Linked DNA regions of Homo sapiens: region 1 is linked to region 2. A link means that fine-mapping ties the variant in region 2 to the expression of a gene that starts in the linked region. Tissue or cell type: whole blood. Region 2 holds a variant in brackets; the other region holds the start of a gene. All regions are shown on one strand. Distances are from middle to middle.

The links. PIP is the estimated chance that this variant, and not a neighbour inherited with it, causes the effect.
Region 1: it holds the start of RTKN, and the variant in region 2 is fine-mapped to the expression of RTKN in whole blood (TOPMed, PIP above 0.99).

Annotation. Positions count from the first base shown.
Region 1 is chr2:74,437,541-74,445,641 of GRCh38, forward strand. RTKN (rhotekin) reads right to left here and starts at 4,397. Exons shown (of 12, transcript NM_001015055.2): 1 at 4,166-4,397. The coding sequence starts at 4,276. RefSeq lists an enhancer at 1,848-2,585 and silencers at 3,013-3,322, 4,038-4,097, 4,408-4,487.
Region 2 is chr2:74,541,022-74,549,122 of GRCh38, forward strand. All of the region lies in intron 4 of LOXL3 (lysyl oxidase like 3), which reads right to left. It also overlaps a transcript of DOK1 not described here. Among named protein-coding and RNA genes, the nearest start is that of LOXL3, 8.9 kb to the right of the region's middle. RefSeq lists an enhancer at 5,025-5,194 and a silencer at 7,756-8,075. The variant C/A (reference allele first, on the strand shown) is at 4,968.

The DNA.
Region 1 (8,101 bases), 100 kb before region 2:
TGCAGAATTTAAACATTTACATACCTAGACCAGCTCTGTCCAATAAAACCTTCTGCGGTGATGGAAATGTTCAGTAGCCATCTAGCACTTGAAATATGGCTACAGCAACTAAGGAATTAATGTTTTGTTTTATTTTAATGAACTAAAAGTAAGATTTAAATAGCCATATGTAACTGATGTGGACAGTGCAGAGGACTATGAATGGCAAATAGGTTTTATCTCATGCACTGATGGAGGATAATTAGGTAGAGTCCCAACGAGTTCACTGGACACCTTTCCACAAATTAGAAAAAGCTGACCCTCTCCAGGCAAACAAATTAGATAAACGTGCTCCCTCCTGATGCCGCTGAAACCAGACCAGGACTCTCACCTCTGGCTGGCACCTGTGTGAAGGACACAACCTGCACAGTTTATGCCAAGACGGTCCTGAGAAAGATTCTGAGGCCAGGTCTGGGCTCGTTGATAAAGAGTGCCAAAATTGACCAGTAACATCTACTATGATCCAGGGAGTGGGGGCAGGGCTTGAGGGGGGACAGCACATACAATATCCTGCCATTCCTGATCTAGACTCTTTGCAGTCCTGCCTCTGACCTCTCAGCAGCAGCCCCTGCCTGGTCCAGGCAGTCACTTCCACAACTTCCTCCATCTTCCCCATCTCCGTAAACAGCCACACCACCCAGTTGCTTAGCCACATACCTGGGAATCATCCTGGAGTTCTCTTTCTTTGCCCTCCCATCCAATCCATCAGCAAATCCTGTCAGACCTACCACCACCATTTGAAATCTACTCCCTTTCTCCACCATGAGCATTTTAATTCACACCACCAGGTTCACTCCCACCTGAAGTGGGAGTGAAACAGCCTCCCACCTGGTGGACATTTGCGAACTCTCTTGCCAACCCTCCACCCCCAACCCTACCCTCAACTTCCCACCAGCCTATTCTCCATAGCAGCCATCATTTAAAAACATGGCATGAGTCATTCCCTTGCTTAAAACCCTTCCATGGCCCAACATCACACTTAAGGTGAAATCCAGGTGCCTTATCATGGCCTTCAAGGCCCTGCATGATCTGGCCCCTGCCCATCAGCTCCACCCCAACTACTATATTCCAGCCACACTGGCTCTCTCTTTCCCACAAATATATTACCCTCATCCTCATATCAGGGCCTTTGCCCTTCCTCCAGTCTTCACATATCTCCAAATCCTCCTGGGCTTAGCTCAAAGATCTCCCAACAGAGGCTTCCCCTGACCTCCACATCTAACATTGCCTCCCTCATCTGATTTTCATTACATCCCCATTTTCATCATAATTTCTTTATGTGATATTATTTATGTGTTCGTATGTATATTTCTGTTCTCCCACTACAATGGAACTTTCTTGTCTTATTCACTGAGGTATCCTATGGTCGAAAAGAGCTTGGCAGATAGTACATAAAATTTACATGTGTTTAATAATACATAGCGCAAGGTGCAGTGGCTCACGCCTGTAATCTCGGCATTTTGGGAGGTCGAGGTAGGGAGATCACTTGAGCCAGGACCAGCCTGGGCAATATAGTGAGACCTCGTCTCTGTAAAGAATTGAAAAAAACAAATACACGAATAAACAGCACCTTGCTGTCTCAAGGGCCAGCAGAATCCTTACTCATAGCCCAGAGTCCTTCTCTTCTCTAGCAAGGCTACATCCTTTCTGTAAACCTCTCTCACATTGAACTCCTCTCTTCTTCCCATGCCTAAAAGGAACCCTTGTCCCCAGAACAGACATTTACACTCACCCACAGAGCTTCCTGAAATAGGTGTAAAGACCCTGCTGCAAACATAAGACTATGATGGGCAGAACTGAGCCTGGGTCCACACACTGCACCCAACACAAGGCATAGGGAACCACCTGTCCCTCTTCCCACTTTAAGCAGGCCTGGCTCTCCCCACCATGCTGTAGCAGGAATGGGCAGGGCAGAGATTGGGGCTGGGATGCAAGTGAAGGAGGTGTGTACTCCAAGGGTCGGGGGATTACCTCCAGGCTGAGTGCCATCTGCCGAATGTAGAGCATATTCAGGTCCTCCAGGATGTGCAATCTGTCCTGCATCTCTGTGCCCCCCGGTGCCCTTTCCCTTGTCAACCCCTCCAGAGGGGGGACAGATAGGTACCACACTGTCCCACAGTTCCTCCTCCCACTGTTCCCTCAGTCTTTAAAGAGGTGGCCAGCTCTTGGGCAGAGGGCAGAAGCTGCCCTTATCCCTCTGCACTCCTGTTAAACCCCTCTGGCTGCTGTGACAAATTTTCCTCGCCCACTGCTGCTCCGGGGCCCTGCCGGGAGCCAGGCAGGGAAGAAAAAGAAAGCGAAGTGAGGATAAGTGGGGTCCCAGGAGGAAAGGCCAGCTGCAGAGGGGGCTCTAGGCACAGAGTGTCCAGTCTCGCTTTGGTGGCAGCTGTTCTCCCAGCTGTGGAAGAAAAAGGCCCTTTCATTCCGACTCTGGCCGCTCCCCAGCCCCCGCCCACATCCCTGGCCTGGTGGACAGGGAATCTGTGTGCGGAGAGGGCAGTGAGGGGCAGGCACAACTGGAAGGGGGCAGGGAAACGACGCCTCATGCAGGTTCTAGAGTCATGGGGTTTGCAGGAGGTTGGAGCTTCCCGAGAGGGGTTCCAGCTTAGTTTGAGAAAGTTGGGAAAAAGAGCCACACAGGTGAGGACCTCAGGGGAGAGTGAGCCCAGGGAATGGGACAAAGGGGTGAGTTGGCAAAGCAGCCCAGCCCTAGGGCCACCCCTTCCAACTCAGGGCCCCCATCCAGCCCGCTCCACCCTGGGCTCACAATTACCTCGCTTTTCCAGAGAAGGGAGGAGAGGGAGAGAGGAAGGCAGGGGTGTGCCTGTCTGCTGCTGTCCCCGCTCCCTTCTGCAGGCCCCTTCCCTTCCAGACAGGAAACCAGCCCCGATTCCGAGCCAGCTGCAGCCTAGCGCCCCCGCCTCCACGCCAGGCCCACGGAGTCACACTTCACTCGGCGGCCGCCAGGCCCTGCGGCTCCGCCCCAGCTCCTCCGAGCTGTCCCCGAAGGCCGGGCTAATCCCAGGGGCGGCCCCAGCTCACAGGCCCCTCCCCCTGGTCCCGGGCCTCGCCCCTTACTCCCCCACGCTGGCCCCACGCGGGTTCCTCGGGCCCAGTCGCTTGGGGGCAAGGGGACGCGACAAAGGCCCCCTCTCCCCAGGTCCACTAGCTTCTGAGTCAGAGAAGGCCCGGGACGCCGGGACAAGGGTGTGAAAGAGCCTCTTTGTTCTGGGCAGGCTGGAGGGAAAGGGCAGAAGCCAGGCCTGGAATCCCAGCCGGGAGGTAGAGGGGGCGGAAGGAAGGCCCACCTCACTTAACCCTTTCCAGACCCGGAAGGGAAGGCTTGGAACTGGGCTCTCCTTGGGCGAGTGTGAGTCTGACCTTGGGGACAGAAGAGTCTTCGGGGTAGCTATTCGCCCTCTCAGTCCCCGCTCAACCACACACCTTCAGCCCCGCCCTAGCCCTTAGGGCGTTACAGGTGGGGATCCAACAGGTTAACGCGTGGACGGCGGACGGGGGAAACGCTCAGCCTAGGGGCTGGACTCCTCTTAGGCCCCAGAAAAGGAGGCGGAAATTTTGCGTGTGGGAAGTAACCCCAAGGAGTTAAAAGCCCTGCAGGGGCATAGAGGAGCCTTTGAATTGGGCTTCGGGGAAGCGAGCGGCCCCGGCCTAAAGTCGGGGTTGATGACAGAGGCTGGCCCAGATGGCTGCGACAGGTTGTGGGATGGGGCTGGCGACTGGGGAACAAGCGGGAGCCCAGGCCAAGAGTCCGAGCGCTTGGGGCCCGCCTAGCTGCCCACCGCCCTTGGCCCGGGGATGCCCAAGACATTTTGGGGTTCAGGCACATTTTAGGAGTCGAGCTGGGGCCCTACAAATTGAGACCAACCCGGGCTTTTTCCAGGCTCAGGCAGATAATCCTAACCAGGCCGCGGAATGGGCAGCATGGATCCGATGAAAATGCAGACCGTCCACACCTTACTTTTTAAGTCAACAACTCCGTCGGGTTTGTACCCAGACCGTGCGTCTCCGCCCCTCGGCGTGCACGCGGGCGAGGGAAGGAGGCCGAGGTGGCTGGGGCTGCCCCCGGGAGCCGCGGAAGGGGAAGGCAGGGACGCGAGTCTCTCACCTCGGGCAGGTCGCTGAAGAGGCTGAGTCGGAAGCGGCCGCGTTTGAACTCCATCTCCAGGGCGGAGCCCCTGGCCACGGTGACCCGGCTCCGGTGGTTTCGGGAGAACATGCTGGCGGCCCTGCGACTTTGCCTGCTCAGTGCGCTCCCCGCGCCGCCCGGCTTAGCCTCCTCTCCTCGGCTTCTGTCTCTCGACGCTCGTCCGCCAGTCCGGCCGGGAATCTCCCGCTGCGGGGCTCCAAACCCCGCCCCCGGAGACGACACCTGGGCCGGGCAGGGCGCGGCAACCTCCTCTTCCACCCCCGCCAAAGGCCCAGCCCGTCCGGCCAGTCCCTGGGCGCCAAGCCGACCTGGCCCGACGGCCCCGGAGCCCCCAGGGGCGCACTGCACCTCGCGAGCACTGTGGGAGCGCGTTCTCCCTGCCCGCGCGGGTCGCGAGCGCCTACCTGGACTTGGGACGGACCGAGAAGCCCTGCCCCGCCAGCCGCCCCAACCTGGCAAGCCTGGCTTCCCGGGCGCTGAAAACCCCGTGGCTCAGGGATCGCCGCGTAGCACGCTCTGGCTCTACTCGGGCCCTGGGACCTTGCCCAGTTTCAATCCCGGCAGCCTCCGAAGAGACCATTTCAACATCCCACAGTCCCAAATGTTCCTTCTTCGTCCCCCTCCCCACCTAGGCTCCTCTGCGAGGCTATCCGCCTAAGCCTAGTGGCCACAACTGATGGGGCGGTGCTTAAACACGTCGTGAAACCCCAGCTCTGTCACTAACTAACCGTGCAATCATTAACTTGGTCCAGTCACTGGCCTTTCTGAGCTTCAGTTTTCTCATTTGTTCAGTGGGAATACTGTAATTATCTCCACTCCTCAAGTTGCTATGAGGATTACCTATAAGAATGAGGGTAAAATGCCCAGCATAGTGCCTGGCACAAGGCAAGTGCCCCATATTTGCAGTCATAAAGAGCAGCTGCGCGCGGTGGCTCACGCCTGTAATCGCAGCACTTTGGGAGGCCTAGGAGGGTGGATCACCTGAGGTTGGGAGTTCGAGACCAGCCTGACCAACATGGAGAAACCCCATCTCTACTAAAAATACAAAATTTAGCCGGCCATGGTGGCACATGCCGGTAATCCCAACTACTTGAGAGGCTGAGGCAGGAGAATCGCTTAAACCCGGGAAGCAGAGGTTGTGGTGAGCTGAGACCCCACCATTGCACTCCACCCTTGGAAACAAGAGCGAAACTACGTCTAAAAAAAAGATGGCTGGGTGCAGTGGCTCAAGCCTGTAATCCTAGCACTTTGGGAGGCCAAGGGGGACTGATCGCTCTTGAGCTCAGGAGTTGGAGACCAGCCTGGGCAACATGAAACCCTGTCTCAACAAAACACACACACACACGCACACACACACACAAATTGGCCTGGCATGGTGGTGCACACCTGTAGTCCCAGCTACTCGGGAGGCTAAGGTGGGAGGATTGCTTGAGCCCGAAAGTTCAAGTCCAGCCTGGGCAACATAGTGGGACCCCATCTCTTAAAAAGCATTACAAATATGTATAATTTTTTATTTTTATTTATTTATTTATTTATTTATTTTAATTTTTTTTTTTTAAGACAGAGTCTCACTCTGTCACCCAGGCTGGAGTGCAATGGCATGATCTCGACTCACTGCAACCTCTGCCTCCTGGGTTCAATCGATTCTCCTGCCTCAGCCTCCGGAGTAGCTGGGATTACAGGCGTCTGCCACCATATCTGGCTAATTTTTGTATTTTTAGTAGAGATGGGGTTACACCATGTTGGTAAGGCTGGTCTCAAACTCTTGACCTCAGGCGATACACCCGCCTTGGTCTCCCAAAGTGCTGGGATTTCAGGCGTGGCCCACGCCTGGCCAATATTATCTATCTATAGATAGATATAGATATAGATAGATATAGATATAGATATAGATATAGATATAGATATAGATATAGATATAGATATAGATATAGATAGATATAGATATAATCAGCTGCTTTGCTGGATGGCTGGACTTGCCCGGCTGGACTTACCACTCCCTGCTTCCATAAAAACAGGGTTCCCGCTAGGCGCGGTGGCTCACGCCTGTAATCCCAGCACTTTGGGAGACCAAGGGGGGCAGATCACGAGGTCAGGAGATCGAAACCATCCTGGCTAACACGGTGAAAACCCGTCTCTACTAAATATACAAAAAAATTAGCCGGGCATGGTGGCGGGCGCCTGTAGTCCCAGCTACTCAGGAGGCTGAGGCAGGAGAATGCCCTGAACCTGGGAGGCGGAGCTTGCACTGAGCCGAGATCGTGCCACTGCACTCCAGCCTGGGCGACAGAGCGAGACTCTGTCTCAAACAAACAAACAAACAAACAAAAAACAGGGTTCCCTTCTTGCCCCCTCTGGGGAAAGCCCAGTGGAAGAGAAGGAAATGGCAAAGGATTAACTTGCTGATCACACATAAACAGATCTCCTGAAGGCTTCAGAACACAGAACTTGAGAAAGGGTGAGACTCCTACATGGCAGGCTGGCTGGACCCAGAGACATACCAGTCTTGAGCTCTTAGAGAGTCCAGATTAGAAATGTTTTGCTATGGCAAATCATTTCAACATTCTTTTGGAAAAGCTGACTGAAAAGTACTAAAGCAAAAGGGGAAATGCATCGGCTCCTGGAACTGAGCCAATACAAACAAATGAGCCAGGGGTCAAGCTTTAGATGTGGCTTAACCCACTCATTGAGTGTCAGGAATATCCAGTCTCTTCCCATCACTTGGCTCTACTTTCCTCCACGTTGGCTTCACTCTCCACAGTGTAACGAAATTGCTGCCCAAAATTCTGGGTCTATATCTTTTCAGGCTTAAATTCAGCTGAAAAGAGAGCATCTGTTTCCTGAGGCTCCTACACGTCTGGGATTCGCTGTGAGACATTTGTGATCATTCATCCATCCCAAACCAATCATTGGAGTCAGACGGTGGCCAGATCTGAACCAATTGCTGTGGCTAAGGAGGTTCTAGGTGCCAGCTGGCCAGGCTTGGGGTCACTTGCCCACTCCTGGAGACTAACCAGAACCCAGTGAACTGGGAGGGAGAAGGTGGGGGAGGGTTGTTCCCCAAAGAATGTTCCAACCACTACCACCAGAAGGTGAGAGAATGGAAAATGAACAGGAAAAACAACCAACATCCTCCACACACAAAATTTTATATGGAGAAGGGAGTTCTTCTGGTCAGTAGGAAAGGCAGATCAAAAGATTTATAAAGTCCATGGCATCTGAGATTAACCACAAAAGACGTGTGAGGGGAAAGAAAGGGAAAGATATTGTTCCTTAATTTATTCAAATATTCATCATCACTCCTCTGAACTGTAAGCCTTCTAGGGAGGGGCAGTCTGTCTTATCCCCAGTGCCTGGGACATAGCAAGTGATCAATAAACATCAGTTGAAGTAAATAAAAGAGAAGCAAACAGATTTGAGAGTCCTTGACTGAGATGTGCCATCCTGTTGGACTAAGATAGTTCATTTCAAATGTTTGTTTTTAAGCAACAGAACCTTTTTTTTTTAATGAAATCTTACCTGAAATGTGTGAAATCAAATCAGAGCTGCTATGATGGGAGCAGGTGCTAGAGCCTCATGCCTTGTCTACCCACAGGTGCTCAGCTGCTCCCTGCTCCCCCAGTGAACACAAGCTCTGTGGACGGGTTTGAAAACCCCTGGCCTGAGACCCAGGAAGGAGGCAGAGGAATGGAGGATCTTCAAAAAGGAGGTTGAGCTCAAATCCTGCCTGAGAGTTTGTACTCAATGTGGCTGAAGATTTTTGGGAAGGAGGGACATGATCAGGATTATATTATATTATATTATATATATATATTTATATAATATATATCACTCTGTTACCCAGCTAGAGCAAAGTGGTGCCATGATAATACACTGCAGCCTTGAACTCCTGGG
Region 2 (8,101 bases):
TTCAACATAGTACAGCTGGCCTTCCATATCCATGGGCTCTGCATCTGTAGATTCAACCTCCATCTGTACTGAACACGTACCAACTTTTTTTCTTGTCATTATTCCCTAAGCAATAAAATATAACAACTACTTATGTAGCATTTACATTATGTTAGGTATTATAAGTAATCTAGAGATGATTTAAAGCATACAGAGGATGTGCATAGGTTATATGCAAATACTATAGCATTTTATATCAGGGACTTGAGCATCTTTGAATTGTGGTATCCTTGGGAGATCCTAGAACCAATCCCCCATGGTTACTGAGGGATGACTGTTTAATGTGTGAAGACACCTTGGGATTTAAATATACGTATATATTTTAAACCAGTCAGAAGCTGTTTGATATTTTCTGCCTCAGCTTCTTCCTGAGGATGTACTTAGTTGGTCTCTTTGCCAAAGTGTCCAAAGTGTTGGACATTCCTGGCAAAGAATATACAACTCTCAGGTCCCTTTACTGAGACATTGCTAATAGTTAGACTCTTTCATCTTATAAATATGGTGTGAAATTTTTTCTCCAAATGTCTTTTTCTCAAACATGTCTAAAATGTCTAAAATGAAATACACTTGGCCTCTTCACCAATCAACCTGGAGAGTTCACCTTGATCTCCAGAGTAGTACTAAAACATTTTGGTATTATCTAGAAATTTAGAAGTACCTCTTCTCTAAATTATTTAAGGACCTTATATCAACAGGTCTTTGTATTATTTATATATATATATACACAAACATATGTAATCTTATTTCATATTTATATAAAAGAGTTTAGACCCTTTTATCTTATAAATATTTTATATATAAAATTATATATAAGTTATGTTAAGGACTTTGTCCTCATTGAGGACCAGTGCTGTTATTTGTCTTGATTTAAATTTCTTCATTCACAGATGTGTTTGTTTCCACCTACCATTTGTTCCTTCCTTCAGCCATCAAACATAAAAACCTATGTAGGCCAGGGGCAGCGGCTTACGCCTGTAATCCCAGCACTTTGGGAGGCTGAGGCAGGAGGACTGCTTGAGCCCAGAAGTTTGAGACCAGCCTGGGCAACACAGTGAGACCTCGTCTCTACAAAAAATTTAAAAATTAGCCGGGTGTGGTGGCTCGAGCCTGTAGTTCCAGCTACTCAGGAGGCTGAGATGGGATGATCGCTTGAGCCCAAGAGGTCGAGGTTGCAGTGAGCCATGATGGCGCCACTGCACTCTGGCCTGGTCAACATAGAGAGACCCTGTCTCAAAAACAAGGAATCAAACAAACAAACAAACAAACAAAGAAAAAACCCAAAACAAAAACCTGTCTACATTTGCATATCCTCTTCTCATACCTTTCAACTATTTTTCTTCTCTAAGTCTACTGTACCTAAATGTTTCTAAATTCCATCTCTTACAATTTTTCTCAGTCCTGCATACCATTTCTTTTTCTCAACTGAATCCTTTTAAACATTCAAATCACTCCTACACATGCACACACACACACACACACACACCCTCTACTTATCTCTCCTCCCCTTCACAGTAACATTTCTCAAGAGCTGTCCATACTTATCATCTTTATATCCTCTCTTCCTACTTTTTTTTTTTTTTTTTGAGACAGAGTCTCGATCTGTCACTCAGGCTGGAGTGCAGTGGTGCAATCTTGGCTCACTGCAACCTCCGCCTCCTGGGCTCAGCAATTCTCCTGCCTCAGCCTCCCAGGTAGCTGGGATTACAGGCACGCACCACCACAGCCAGCTAATTTTTGTATTTTTAGTAGAGACGGAGTTTCATCATGTTGGCCAGGCTGGTCTCAAACTCCTGATCTCAGGTGATTCACCTGCCTTGGCCTCCCAAAGTGCTGGGATTACAGGTGTGAGCCACCATGCCCAGCCTCCTCTTACTCATTTTTCAACCCACTTCCTCTGGTTTTCCCTACCTATCACTCTGCAAACTTCTATTTTGTTAAATCCAGCAGACATTTTTCAGTCTTCATCTTAATGACCTCTCTGCAACATCTGACTGTCCTCTCTTTCCTTGGCTGCTATAACACTACAATATCCTGGTTTTATTCCTAATTCTGCTTATTATTATTATTAATTTCCAGAGTGGCTCCCCAGGGAGCAGGGCTGACTCCTAGGCAGTGTGCCTAGAGCCGCCTACTCCTAATTCTGGTTGCTCTTTCTTGGTCTTCTCTGCAGGCTCCTCCCCTATCTGGTCATTAAAATTTGTGGAGCTCTTTCTTAGGCATTTTGTTCTCACTTCATATAGGGCCCTCTATATGGTCTAATTCACACCTAGTGTATTCATAATCTTGTCTATTTCATTGCCTTCTTGATGTTTCTAGGTAGAGATCTGAAAGTAATCTGAAATGTAATGTAGGTCCAAAAAAAAAAGATAATTATCTCAGTAAAATCCACTCCAGAAACCTAGGGGTCAATCCTGACTTCTCCCTTTCTTGGATCCCAAAGTCAATCAATAACCAAGTCCTGTCAATTTTACTTCTAAATATCTCTCCAATCCATATCTTTTGCTCCTCTCCTGATTATTCTCAGAAATAGAGTCAAAGGCGGGGCGTGGTGGCTCATAGCTGTAATCCCAGCACTTTGGGAGGCCAGGACAGGCAGATCACTTGATCTGATCCTGAGGTCAGGAGATCAAGACCAGCCTGGGCAACATGGAGAAACCCCATCTTTACTAAAAATACCCAAAAATCAGCAAATTAGCTGGGCATGGTGGCGCGTGCCCGTAATCCCAGCTACTCGAGAGGCTGAGGTAGGAGAATTGCTTGAACCCAGGAGGCGGAGGTTGCAGTGAACCAAGATTGCACCAGTACACTCCAGCCTGGGTGACAAAGCAAGGCTCTGTCTCAAAAAAAAAAAAAAAAAAAAAAAGAAAAGAAAAGAAAAAAAAGAAATAGATTCAAATGATCTTTTGGAGTCACAAACCTGATCATGCCATCTCATAGCCCTCCCCATTAAAACACTTCAATGGCCGGGCACGGTGGCTCAAGCCTGTAAGCCCAGCACTTTGGGAGGCCGAGGTAGGCGGATCACCTGAGGTCAGGAGTTCAAGACCAGCCTGGCGAGCATGGTGAAACCTCGTCTCTACTAAAAATACAAAAATTAGCTGGGCGTGGTGGGCACCTGTAGACCTAGCCACTCAGGAGGCTGAAGCAGAAGAATCACTTGAACCCAGGGAGGTGGAGGTTGCAGTGAGCAGAGATTGTGCCACTGCACTCCAGCCTGGGCAACAAGCCAGACTCCCTCTCAAAAAAACAAACAAACAAAACAAACAAACAAACAATCCAAACATCAAAGGCTTCCCAATCCTTTTATCATAAGGACCTGAATCCTTATGATGGCCTATAAGGTCTTCTATGATCTGCAGCCTAATAACCTCTCTTGTCATTTATTCACCTTTGTATTCTCAGCACCTTGCACAGTACTTGGCAAATAGGAGTTCAATAAACATCTGTCAAGCTGAAATGAACTAGAAGAGTGACTTCTTAAATAGCACTGAAGCTCTTAGAGCCTCAATTTCATTACCTGTAAAAGAGTAGTAAATAGTTCAATTATCTGTACATTCTTTTCTTATTCTAAAGTTCTACAACTTTTACATGTTCTAGGGTAGAACTACCAAAACAAATTGAAAAATGATTAATACATCAGGTTTTGATTTTCTCATTCCCTAAATCTTACTGACTTCCTCTAAAAGCCAGCAGATCCATTTTTTTTCCCTAAGGAGGGGAGAGTTGTTTACAACTGTCTTGCCTATCTTTCATAATTGTAATAATTGTATCACCTGTGAGAATGCTCCCTCTGCTGGGCCTGACCTGTGAAGGATCTAGATCATAGCCCCATCACAGAATCTCCCAGGGCTCCCGCAATCTCTTTCCCCACGAAGAATGGCCTCTGTGCTTTAGTGTATCTCTTTCTCCAGCCTTTATATCCCAGACTTAGTATGAGATTCCGATATGTCCAACAAATATTCCTGATCCCTAAAACTTATTTCAGCTTTGCATACCTGGGGACAATTCCTGTGTCTCAAACTTTCCAAGGACAGCCCATCTCTAAAGCTAGTTCATATTAACCTGAAGCCCAGAGATGGCTGCTGGTACCATCCTTCTCTCAGGCAGCATCGGAATCATTTTAGGTGTCTGTTCTCTCATTCTCTATGTTCTATCAGTCATCCTACATCTATTCATTTTCCTCCATCTTTGTTTTTACCCTCCTGATAAGCTTCAATTTTAGAACAAACTCCTGACTGGTCTTACTGCATCAAGACCCTCCTCTCCTCATCCACTACTATCAGGCAAACTTTCAAAAACACTGGCTTTATTCTTGTCCCATATAAATACCTTTATTTGTAATTTTTCTATAAGGCAAAGGCCAAACTCTCCAATTTGGCACCTAAAGCATTCCATTTTCTGGCCTCCCTTTATCCAGATCTTCCACTATTTCTCAGTATAAACCTACTCTTGCTAACTTACTGTCTTCCAAATATAAACCATTCATTATCATCTCTGTTGGGGCCAACAGTGACTTTACTGTTGCTAAATCCAGCATTTGTTTCTCAGTCCTCATGTTTTTAGGTCTGGGCAGCACTGACTTAGCTGGTCACTCTCTCCTCTTCGAAGCACTTTACTTGGCTCCCAGGCCACCACACTCCCCTGGTTTTCTTCCTACCTCACCTCACTGTTTGCATTCATCTTATCTTCTGACTTTTAAATATTTAGTCTCCCCAAGGTTCAGTCTCTGGGCCTCTCTCTGTCTTTTAAATTTACATTCACTTCCTTGGTATGTTGTCCAGTTTCAGGACTTTATATGTTTTACTCAACTGAACTCCAGAGTCCTATATTAAATTACCTAACTTAGCCTCGCCACTTCAATGTCTTAAAGAATCTTAAATTTAACAGGTCTAAAACCAAGTTCCTACCCTCCACCCCCAAGCCCATCT[C/A]CCAACAAAACATGCTCCATTCACTGTTTTCCTTGTCAGGTGAGGCCAATTTCTTACTTAGCTGAGGCCAAAAACCTGGAGAGAGCCTTAACTCCTCTCTCTCACATCACACTGAATCCATCAGCAAGTCCTATAGCTCTGCCTTCAACTGTCTGTAAATCTTGATCATTTTTCACCACTTTCACTGGTCACCATCACCTTTCACTTTCTTTACGTGGCTTTCAGAAGACAATAACCCCATAACCAGCCACCTGACTTCTTGCTTCTACTGCATCCCTTACAATCTATTCCTAATAAAGCAGTGAAAGTAGTACTGAAAAAAAAATGGAAGCCCGATGTCACACCTCTGCTCCAAGCCCTCCAGTGGTTCCTTATCTCCCACAGAACAAAAGCCATCCTCTCCCAGATGGCCCGCAGGATCTGGCTTCCCATTCTTTTCCGAAGACCACCTACACTGCATCTCCTACCATTTTCTTCTTTTTCACTCAGCTCCAGCCACAGTGGCCTCCAGGAGAAGGAGAGGCCTTATCCCATCACCCACTACATACACACACAGGCACACACACACCCCAGAATATTTTCATTTTTGATCCCTCTTCCTAGAAATGTTTATCTAGAGGTCTGCATAGCTTGTGCCCTCACCTCCTTTAAATCTTTTCTCAAATGATGCCTTCTCCAAGAGGCCTTCCTTCACCACTTATTTATTTACTTACTTACTTAATTTATTTTTATTTTATTTTTATTTGAGACGGAGTTTCGCTCTTGTTGCCCAGGCTGGAGTGCAATGGCGCGATCTCAGCTCACCGCAACCTCCGCCTCCCGGGTTCAAGCCATTCTCCCGCCTCAGCCTCCCGAGTAGCTGGGATTACAGTCATGCGCCACCACACCCGGCTAGTTTTGTATTTTTAGTAGAGATGGGGTTTCTCCATGTTGGTCAGGCTGGTCTCGAACTCCTGACCTCAGGTGATCCGCGCCTCGACCTCCCAAAGTGCTGGGATTACAGGTGTGAGCCACCGTGCCCGGCCTTAGTTAATTTATTTTTTGAGACAGGGTCTTGCTCTGCCACCCAGGCAGTGTAGTGGCATGATCACAGCTCACTGCAGCCTTGACTTCCTGGGCTCAAGCAATCTTCCCACCTCAGCCTCCCAAGTAGCTGGGACTACAGGCACGCACCACCATGTTCAGCTAATTTTATTTTTAAAAAATTATCTGTAGAGACAGGGTCTCATTATGTTGCCCAGGCTGGTCTCGAATTCTTGGGCTCAAATAATGCTTCCACCGTGGCCTCCCAAAGTCCTGGGATTATAGGCATGAGCCACGGGTAGTGTCTACAACAGTACCTGGCACATAGTAAGATCTCAGTAAATAAATATTGGGTGAGTGGATCTCTACACCTTTGTTCACGCTATCTTCTTCACTGGAAATGTCTAAATTCTACGCATCTTTCAGAACATGGGGTTTAAATTAGGGAAGGTAAGCAGCACAGAGAAGGAAATGCAGCCCCAAGATGGATGAAAGTAAAGAGGCACAGCACGTTTGTTTTAAAGTGGTTTGAGTGTCCAGGCCAGATAAAGTACCGAAAGTCCTCAGTACTGAAAGACATTTCAGATGAGCCTCAGAGCCAAGGCAAAGAAAGTGTGAGCAGGTATAGAAAAGACTGGAGACTGGATAATATCCTGACTTTCAAAAGAAAAAAAAAAAAGGAGAAAAAGGATTCCTCAATTCCTCAATCTACACATAAGTAATATTCTAGAATAAATTATTAAATAGAAGTTTGTAAGCATTTAGGAAAAAATAAGGTGATTCTTAGAGACCTAAAAGGATTTCAGTAAAAATAGACTCAAACTACTATGATTTTCTTTTTTGACAGGATTACTAAATTGGAAGGCTGGAGAATGGCTGTGAACATAGCATATCTGGATTTTATCAAAAACTAACAGAATCTCCCATGATTTCATTACAGATAAGAAATATATAGATAGATAAGGTGAAATGTTGGTTACATCATTGAAGTGTTCTGTTTCTTCCCAGTTGGTGGAAGGAACATATTTTACAGCTGATGATTAGAAGCTTGATGAAAATCTACAGGAACATTTTGCAAGAAGAGTTAGACTTTGGTTTTAAACATTTCCACAACAACTTTTAGCCATTTGGATGAAGCCAGAAGGCAAAGCTGCCATGTCTGTTCAGCAGAGGAGGCTGAGGGGAAATGACAGATGGAAAGTCACATCAGGACTCAAGATAATCTCATGGGATCATCATGGCTTTTTTATGGCTTCTAAATTATGTATCAAAACAAATGTAATAGGTAAACGTCACCTATACCTGGGTTGGAAAAGGCTGCTCTATCAGTAGGAAGCATAGGGAAGACCTGAACTGGTTTTAAGTGATGACAAGTTCAGTATAAGCAGTGGGAAGCTGCCGCAGTAGGAAGACAGTGTAATCCGAGCACGCTTCAGTCGGGGTTGAGGATTTCTACAGTAGCTGGCGGCATCAGACCCCATCTGAAGTAGTGTGCCCGCGGAAACCTATCCGGACATCAAGAGGCCTTTCAGCAATACTGATCTAGGGAACCACTGAAGAAAGGGAGGATTTTTGGCTCGCAAAATAGATTACAGTGAGAGGGTGTAAAGATTTCCAAATAAATGCCTGGCTGTCAATGGCAGTTTCTCAAAAAGATCAAAGTAGATGTTCCAGGGAAGGGAGACGTTAAGCACAGGCAGTTTCCAGGGTGATGCGTTTCCCTGGAAGCCGGACTGGACCCCAGGGCTCCAGCGCAGGTGGAGAGGTTGGGCCTCGCCAAAAGAGATCCTGGGAAACTTCCAGGACTTCCAGGAGCCCCGAGGGCTCGAGCGTTCACATACGCGCCCCGCCCCGGGGCGGCCCGGGCAGAGAGACTGGCGCGGTCTCTCCTGGCGCCCTTCGGCCATCGCGCGCCGCCGTCCCCGGGCCCCCGGACCCTGGGCGCCCAGCCTGCGCGGGACACACCCAGGCGCCGCCTCCCAGGGGCGGCCGCGTCCTTACTGAACTCGGAAATCGCTGGCCGGCAGCGCCAGCGCTGGAATCGCCCCCGCGCCTGGGAGTGGCCTCGCGAGGCCGGCGCGCGCCCCGGGGCCGAGGAATCCGCCTGCCCG